2 separate regions of the Homo sapiens genome follow, and region 2 is linked to region 1. Evidence: fine-mapped expression QTL. A gene starts in region 1. The other region holds a variant in brackets. All regions are shown on one strand. Distances are from middle to middle.

Region 1 (4,388 bases):
CTAAAGTTCACCAGCCCCTTCCTTTACCACTTAGCACCACCTCAAAGGTGTCTCCTCCTCCTCCTCCTAAACGGTCTGTCCTTTAAATCATTTATTTCTGGCTAGGCGCAGTGGCTCACGCCTGTAATCCCAGCACTTTGGGAGGCCGAGGCGGGTGGATCACGAGGTCAGGAGTTCGAGACCAGCCTGGCCAAGATAGTGAAGCCCTGTCTCTACTAAAAAATAAAAAAAATAGCATGGTGGCAGGTGCCTGTAATCCCAGCAACTCGGGAGGCTGAGGCAGGAAAATCGCTTGAACCCGGGAGGCGGAGGTTGCAGTAAGCCGAAATTGCGCCACTGTACTCCAGCCTGGGCGAGAGAGTGAGACTCCATCTCAAATCATTTATTTCTAAATCTTTGTACATCCGTGTGGTAAAAGCATTTTGTCCATGCAGTCTGAATAATCGCTTGCAAATTATATTCATTTACCACTGTGCTATTAGATACAATACAAAAGTCACAAAGTTGGGATTTTTATTTATTTATATTTTATTTTACTTTTTTGAGACGGAGTCGAGCTCTTGTCACCCACGCTGGAGTGCAATGGCGCGGTCTCCGCTCACTGCAACCTCCGCATCCCAGGTTCAAGCGATTCTCCTGCCTCAGCCTCTCGAGTACCTGGGATTACAGGCGCACGCCACCACGCCTGGCTAATTTTTGTATTTTTAGTAGAGTCAGGGTTTCACCATGTTGGTCAGGCTGGTCTCGAACTCCTGACCTCATGATCCGCCAGCCTCGGCCTCCCAAAGTGCTGGGATTACAGGCGTGAGCCACCGCGCCCGGCAAAACTGGGATTTAAAATGTGGAAAAGTTAACTCCAATTTGAACGTACATTACTTTATTACTACACAGGAATAGCTCATCTTCCACTTTAAAGACTACTGGAAATCACCAGAGCACTTATTTTCACCTCTCTATCTTCCCTCAATATACAGTTCACCTTTCTTGCTACAAGGTAAACTCCTTGGGCAAAACTGAGAGATTGGGTCACCTGTGCCTCCCTCCCTCCCTAACCTCCAGCATTCCTCCTTCCTCAGCTCTTAGTACCAAGCTGCGCCTGGTAACTTAAGTCAATTTCCGCTCTTAAGAGTCCCTTTAGGATCGTTTAAAGGTGAAGCCCAGCGGAAAGGATACAGGATACAGCAGTGAAACTCTCAGCTCCGAAAAGGCTTGAGCCTCTTACTAAACATGCAGGGATGCAAGAAACGGTGCTCGGGGATGAGACTAAGGACCGGCTGGGAATCTGGAAGGGTTCCAAGTTTGGGGTTTAGGCAAACTTCGGGTTCACGTTTCCACAAACGTCGAGTTTACGCGCCCCCGCCAGCAGACCTGAATTGAATACGGGCCACGGGGAAGCCTAAAGCAAGTGACTTACTTTAAGCCTCAGTTTCCCCATTTGTGAATTAGTTGCTCGGATCCCTGGAGGAGATACGCGTACGCGCAGTTCACGTTTCAGAAAAAAGGGAAGGCTAGGGACAAAGACGCCCATGTCTTATATTACCTCGAAAGATGACTCCAACTCGTCCACCAAAGTACTGCTGGAAGGTCTAGGAGCGCCTGGAGCTGCCTGAAGAAGCGAAGCTTGGCCCGGAAGGCCCGGCGGGGCCTGAGGGGGACCGGGTGGCTGCCCAGAAAACATACCCCCTAGTGGAGCCGCCATGTTTGGAATGGCGCAAGAGAGATCCACTGCGCCTGCGCGGAAGCCGGCTCAGAAGCTCACGTGGCTGGTGTAGTAGGCGTGGTCACGTGACAGGACCGAGCGATGGGAGGATTCTGGTGCACCCCGGAAGGAGGATTTTTAATTCTTCTGTTTTCTTGTCTATCGCAAAACAGAGTTTACATGTATTTTCCTTTTTTCTTAGCTTAAGAATTGAAGACTTTGGCCGGATTAGACCTGGTTGTGTGGAGAGGAGAATTAATAACTACAGTGGAGCGAGCCCTCCTGCGAGAGTCAGGATACTACTATGCTAGTCCCGACTCTGCCCCAAATGCCTGGAGAGACTTTGGCTAAGTCACTTTTTCTTTCCGCGGGCTGTTTACCGTTGGTAAAAGGAGAGGGTCACCCACTCACTCCACAAACATTTGTTGAGTCATTGGTTATAGCGGGAACAAGACAGGCAAAGTTCTTCCTGAATTCTGGTCGGAGATGGATAACGGAAACAACTTTGTTGAGGTTCCCAATGTGCCCGGCACTGATGTCTTTAAATATTTATGGTTACATCAAAGAGAAAGTCACTATGCTAATCTTTTTTTTTCTTTCTTTTCTTTTTTCTCAGGGTCTCGTTCTGTCGCCCTGGCCGGAGTGCAGTGTCATGATCAGGGCTCGACCTCCCGGGCTCAAACAATCCCCCTACTTCAGCCACCCAAGTAGCTAGGACCACAGGTGCGTGCAGTCGCGACGGGCTTTTTTTTTTTTTTTTTTTTTTTTTTTTAGTTGAGTCAGGTGTTTTACTGAGCTCAAGTGATTCTACCGCCGCGGCCTCCCAAAGTGTTGGGAATACAGTAATGAGCCAAGGCGCCAGGCTGCTAATTTTTTTTTTTTGAGACAGAGTCTCGCTTTGTCGCCCAGGCTGGAGTGCAGTGGCGCGATCTTGGCTCACTGCAAGCTCCGCCTCCCGGGTTCACGCCATTCTCCTGCCTCAGCATCCCGAGTAGCTGGGACTACAGGCGCCCGCCACCACGCCCAGCTAATTTTTTGTATATTTGGTAGAGATGGGGTTTCACCGTGTTAGCCAGGATGGTCTCGATCTCCTAACCTCGTGATCCGCCCGACTCGGCCTCCCAAAGTGCTGAGATTACAGGCGTGAGCCACCGCGCCCGGCACTAGGCTGCTAATCTTGTAGTAACCTGCTTTTAACATTTGCTTATCTCTCTCTTTTTTTTTGGTGACGGAGTCTCGCTCTGTCGCCCAGGCTGGAATGCAGTGGCGCGATCTCGGCTCACTGAAACCTCCGCCTCCTGGGTTCAAGCAATTCTCCTGCCTCAGCCTTCCGAGTAGCTGGGACTACAGGCGCCCGCCGCTCGGCTAGTTTTTCTGTATTTTAGTAGCGCCGGGGTTTCACCTTGTTGCCCAGGCTGGTCTCGAACTCCTGAGCTCAGACAATCCGCCCGCCTCGGTCTTCCAAAGTGCTAGGATTACAGGCGTGAGCCACCGTGCCCAACCTTCTTATTTATCTCTTTAAAACCAAATAACTTTTTTTCATTATATCTGATTTTACAGTTATTACCCAGCACACTTACTGAGCGCTCCACTTCCCAGGCACTATTTAATGATCTGGAGGTTATAGCAATCATCCCAAATCTCTGGAAGGAGACAGACAAGCACATAAATACATAGCAATATTGTGCAGAGAGAAGAGCTGGGAAGGAAAATGAAACCCAGTAAGGGGATGGCTAGTGAGAGGGGTGTTCTTTGAGATAGGTGATTGGAGGAGGCCTCTCCAAGGAGATCTGGACTGTAGTGACTGGCATGAAAATTTAACTAGGAGTGCTTTCTACACCGAAGGATCCCTGAAGAAGCAGCCTGCCTGGGATGTTTAAGGAACCACAGGAAGCTCATTGCCAGAGGAGTGAGCCAGGGCAGAAATGTTCAGAGAAAAAGCAGGAGCTTCCCTTTGCCAACCAGGCTCGGATCAAGTCATCTTCCCAGCCTCAGTTTCACTTAGATCCCCACTCCTAAGTACTTTCCCCTGTTTAATTTTCTTCACAACATTTATGTAATCTGAAATTATCTTGTTCATTTTTTCATAACTGAATCACCTGCCCTCCTCCTCCTTCTCTCTCTGTCATACACATGCCAACTAGAAAATAAGTTCCGTGCATCAGAGCCTGCCCATCTTATTCACCTGTATCCCCAGAATCTAGAATGGTGCCTGGCATAATAGATATAATAAATATGTGATGACTGAAAGAACCAGAAGAGACCGCCAGGAGGAAACAAGCCTACTCCAGCAGTTTTCAGACAGTTTTGGTCTCAAGACCCCTTTACACTCCTAAAAATTATTGAGGATCCCAAAGTTTTTGTTTATGTGGGTTAAGTCTGCTAATATTTATCTGATAAGTTAAAACTGAGAATTTTAGGCTGGAGGCAGTGGCTCATGCCTGTAATCCCAGCACTTTGGGAGGCCGAGGCAGCCGGATCACAAGGTCAGGAGATCAAGACCATCCTGGCTAACATGGTGAAACCCCATCTCTACTAAAAATACAAAAAATTAGCCAGGCGTTGTGGCGGGCGCCTGTAGTCCCAGTTACTTGGGAGGCTGAGGCCGGAGAATGGGGTGAACCCAGGAGGCAGAGCTTGCAGTGAGCCGAGATCATGCCACTACACTGCAGCCTGGTTGAGAGCAAGA
Region 2 (4,388 bases), 32 kb before region 1:
GCTGTGTGGCTTTGGGCATTGTGCTCACCCTCTCTGATGCTCAGGTCCCTCATCCTAAAATGAAGCGGGGGTGGGGGATAATTCATACCAGAAAAGTTGGTGGTGGGACTTAAATGAGAACAGTTTTCACACATGGCCCTGTTGTTACTGTTACCTTGGAAAAGGTTTGGGGAACCTAACCCACCACAAGCCTTCAGCAGCCACCCACGTCATCCAACCCCACCCCAGAGACTGTTGTCCCCATGACACAGGCTTCAGCCTAGACCCAACGCCTAACTCACTGCTGCTCTCCCTTTTCCAGAGTCGCTCAGACAGGAGCTGTCGGAGCAGCAAGCTGCCTGTTCTGGGCACCAGAAGGACTTGGAGGCACTGCAGGCCGAGCTGAGGGCTCTGGGCAGACAGCAAGCCAGCAGCCAGTGTCCAGGAGACAGCAAGGATCACATAATCGCCACAGAGGTCAGTGCCCCCGCCCTTGCACCAGCAATACCCCTCCCAGAGCAGCATCAGGGCCGCAGTAAGAAGCCCCATAAAGGATGGGCTCTGAGGCTGAGTGCAGTGGCTCACACTTGGAATCTAGCACTTTGGGAGGCCAAAGCCAGAGAACCACTTGAGGCCAGGATTTCAAGACCAGCCAGGGCAACATAGCAAGACTATATCTCTACAAAAAAAAATTGAAAATTAGCTGGGCGTGGTGGCATATGCCTGTAATACTGGCTCGGGAGTCTGAGGCAGGAGGATCACTTGACCAGGAGTTCCAGGCTGTGGTGAGCTATGATTGTGCCACAGTACTCTAGCCTGGGCAACATAGCAAGACCCTGTCTCAAAAAAAAAAAAAAAAAAGGGATGGGCTCTGGGTACTTGGTCATTCCCCTCCCCCCTGCCCGAAGTGGGGAAGACCCTTCTCCACAGGCCTGTGGGATACTTGGTGGGCCTGCAGGGTCTTGTCTTCGAAAAGAAAAAAAAAAAGGTTTTAAGTGCTGCATGTTATTTATAATTCAGACGCAATGGTATCTCAGGGTGTTGGTGCTAGATAGGCCCTCGATGCAGCTGGTCTGGGCTACTCCTCTGGATCTGCAGAACATTTTGAATTTCTCAGAACATTTTACCAGACAGGCTCCATCTAGACCTTGCTGTTCCCCTAAGTGGAGCAGCTTTGTTGTCACCCAGGCTCAGTGCCAACTCTCTTTCCTCTTCCTGCTCAGACTTTGCCCATCAGCCCCTTCCCTGCACATCCATCATTCCTGGTCTAGCTGGGTGGCAGTCACCTCCTAACAGCCCAGCCCTCTCTCCCTCCAGTCCATAACGTACAGCTTCAGCTATTCTCCCAAAGCCCAGCATCACTTTCTTTTCTTTTTTTATTATTATTATATTTTAAGTTCTAGGGTACATGTGCACAATGTGCAGGTTTGTTACATATGTGTGCATGTGCCATGTTGGTGTGCTGCACCCATTAACTCGTCATTTACATTAGGTATATCTCCTAATGCTATCCCTCCCCACTACCCCCACCCCACAACAGTCCCCGGTGTGTGATGTCCCCCTTCCTGTGTCCAAGTGTTCTCATTGTTCAATTCCCACCTATGAGTGAGAACATGTGGTGTTTGGTTTTTTGTCCTTCTGATATTTTGCTGAGAATGATGGTTTCCAGCTTCATCCATGTCCCTACAAAGGACATGAACTCATTCCTTTTTTATGGCTGCATAGTATTCCATGGTGTATATGTGCCACATTTTCTTAATCCAGTCTATCATTGTTGGACACTTGGGTTGGTTCCAGGTCTTTGCTATTGTGAATAGTGTTGCAGTAAACATACGTGTGCATGTGTCTTTATAGCAGCATGATTTATAATCCTTTGGGTATATACCCAGTAATGGGATGGCTGGGTCAAATGGTATTTCTAGTTCTAGATCCTTGAGGAATCACCACACTGTCTTCCACAATGGTTGAACCAGTTTACAGTCCCACCAACAGTGTCAAAGTGTTCCTATTTCTCCACATCCTCTCCAGCACCTGTTGTTTCCTGACTTTTTAATGATCACCATTCTAACTGGTGTGAGATGGTATCTCATTGTGGTTTTGATTTGCATTTCTCTGATGGCCAGTGATGATGAGCATTTTTTTCATGTGTCTTTTGGCTGCATAAATGTCTTCTTTTGAGAAGTGTCTGTTCATATCCTTCACCCACTTGTTGATGGGGTTGTTTGTTTTTTTGTTGTAAATTTGTTTGAGTTCTTTGTAGATTCTGGATATTAGCCCTTTGTCAGATGAGTAGATTGCAAAAATTTTCTCCCATTCTGTAGGTTGCCTGTTCACTCTGATGGTAGTTTCTTTTGCTGTGCAGAAGCTCTTTAGTTTAATTAGATCCCACTTGTCAATTTTGGCTTTTGTTGCCATTGCTTTTGGTGTTTTAGACATGAAGTCCTTGCCCATGCCTATGTCCTGAATGGTAATGCCTAGGTTTTCTTCT[A/G]GGGTTTTTATGGTTTTAGGTCTAACATTTAAGTCTTTAATCCATCTTGAATTAATTTTTGTATAAGGTGTAAGGAAGGGATCCAGTTTCAGCTTTCTACATATGGCTAGCCAGTTTTCCCAGCACCATTTATTAAATAGGGGATCCTTTCCCCATTTCTTGTTTTTGTCAGGTTTGTCAAAGATCAGATAGTTGCAGATATGTGGTATTATTTCTGAGGGCTCTGTTGTGTTCCATTGGTCTATATCTCTGTTTTGGTACCAGTACCATGCTGTTTTGGTTACTGTGGCCTTGTAGTATAGTTTGAAGTCAGGTAGCATGATGCCTCCAGCTTTGTTCTTTTGGCTTAGGATTGACTTGGCGACGCAGGCTCTTTTTTGGATCCATATGAACTTTAGTTTTTTCCAATTCTGTGAAGAAAGTCATTGGTAGCTCGATGGGGATGGCATTGAATCTATAAATTACCTTGGGCAGTATAGCCATTTTCACAATATTGATTCTTCCTATCCATGAGCATGGAATGTTCTTCCATTTGTTTGTATCCTCTTTTATTTTGTTGAGCAGTGGTTTGTAGTTCTTGAAGAGATCCTAAACATCCCTTGTAAGTTGGATTCCTAGGTATTTTATTCTCTTTGAAGCAATTGTGAATGGGAGTTCACTCATGATTTGGCTCTCTGTTTGTCTGTTATTGGTGTATAAGAATGCTTGTGATTTTTGCACATTGATTTTGTATCCTGAGACTTTGCTGAAGTTGCTTATCAGCTTAAGGAGGTTTTGGGCTGAGACAATGGGGTTTTCTAGATATACAATCATGTCGTCTGCAAACAGGGACAATTTGACTTCCTCTTTTCCTAATTGAATACCCCTTCTTTCTCCTGCCTGATTACCGTGGCCAGAACTTCCAACACTATGTTGAATAGGAGTGGTGAGAGAGGGCATCCCTATCTTGTCCCAGTTTTCAAAGGGAATGCTTCCAGTTTTTGCCCATTCAGTATATGATATTGGCTGTGGGTTTGTCATAAATAGCTCTTATTATTTTGAGATACATCTCATCAATACCTAATTTATTGAGAGTTTTTAGCATGAAGGGCTGTTGAATTTTGTCAAAGGCCTTTTCTGCATCTATTGAGATAATCATGTGGTTTTTGTCGTTGGTTCTGTTTATATGCTGGATTATGTTTATTGATTTGTGTATATTGAACCAGCCTTGCATCCCAGGGATGAAGCCCACTTGATCATGGTGGATAAGCTTTTTGATGTGCTGCTGGATTTGGTTTGCCAGTCTTTTATTGAGGATTTTTACATCAATGTTCATCAGGGATATTGGTCTAAAGTTCTCTTTTTTTGTTGTGTCTCTGCCAGGCTTTGGTATTAGGATGACCAGCATCACTTTTCATAAAGCCTTTGGTGGTTCCCATTGGAGAAAGCTCCAAATGCTTCAACTTGGCATTGAAAAGCTTCCACCACTGATTATGACCTGTATGTCCTGCCATATTCCCTGCGGCTCATAAACCCGGCATCTGCACCCTCCCTTTGGCCTTCGCCTGTGCCACTCCTCCTGCCTGAGATGCTGCCCAGCATATCTCATGCTGGGGGCCTTCCCTGGCACACAGTGGCCCCCTCTGGCTCTGAGATCCTGGAGCACTTGTTGTCAAGACAGCTCAGCTGGCTCTAGGATCTACCGCCCGGTCCTGTTGGGGACATGCCATTTCATAGATGTCCTTGTTGCCTAGACTGGATCAGGAGTCTTTTGAGGATAACCTGTCTGCCTGCCTCATCGCCTCCCCACCCCCACTCCCAGCCCTCAGCAGGGTCTCCACCAGTGCCTGTGGGTGGTGAGGATTCATTGGTGGCCAGTCCTGCTGAAGGACCGGGGGACATGGGAATCATGTGTGCCAGATTTAGCTGTTGCTGAGCATAG

Direction of the effects. Alleles are on the strand shown, and positions count from the first base shown. SD is a standard deviation of normalised expression in the study named.
As copies of G replace A in region 2, the expression in whole blood of the gene that starts at base 1,713 in region 1 goes up (moderate effect, 0.51 SD a copy in GTEx).

The links. PIP is the estimated chance that this variant, and not a neighbour inherited with it, causes the effect.
Region 2: its variant is the best candidate, but not a certain one, in a credible set for the expression of MED28 in whole blood (GTEx, PIP 0.65).

The regions. Positions count from the first base shown.
Region 1 is chr4:17,611,966-17,616,353 of GRCh38, reverse strand. It overlaps MED28 (mediator complex subunit 28), which reads right to left and starts at 1,713. Exons shown (of 4, transcript NM_025205.5): 1 at 1,541-1,713. The coding sequence starts at 1,699. It overlaps MED28-DT (MED28 divergent transcript), which reads left to right and starts at 1,774. Exons shown (of 3, transcript NR_186331.1): 1 at 1,774-2,212; 2 at 2,316-2,422. RefSeq lists enhancers at 1,564-1,673, 1,774-2,063, 1,169-2,368.
Region 2 is chr4:17,643,705-17,648,092 of GRCh38, reverse strand. It overlaps FAM184B (family with sequence similarity 184 member B), which reads left to right. Exons shown (of 18, transcript NM_015688.2): 12 at 302-456. Among named protein-coding and RNA genes, the nearest start is that of MED28, 31 kb to the right of the region's middle. The variant A/G (reference allele first, on the strand shown) is at 2,468.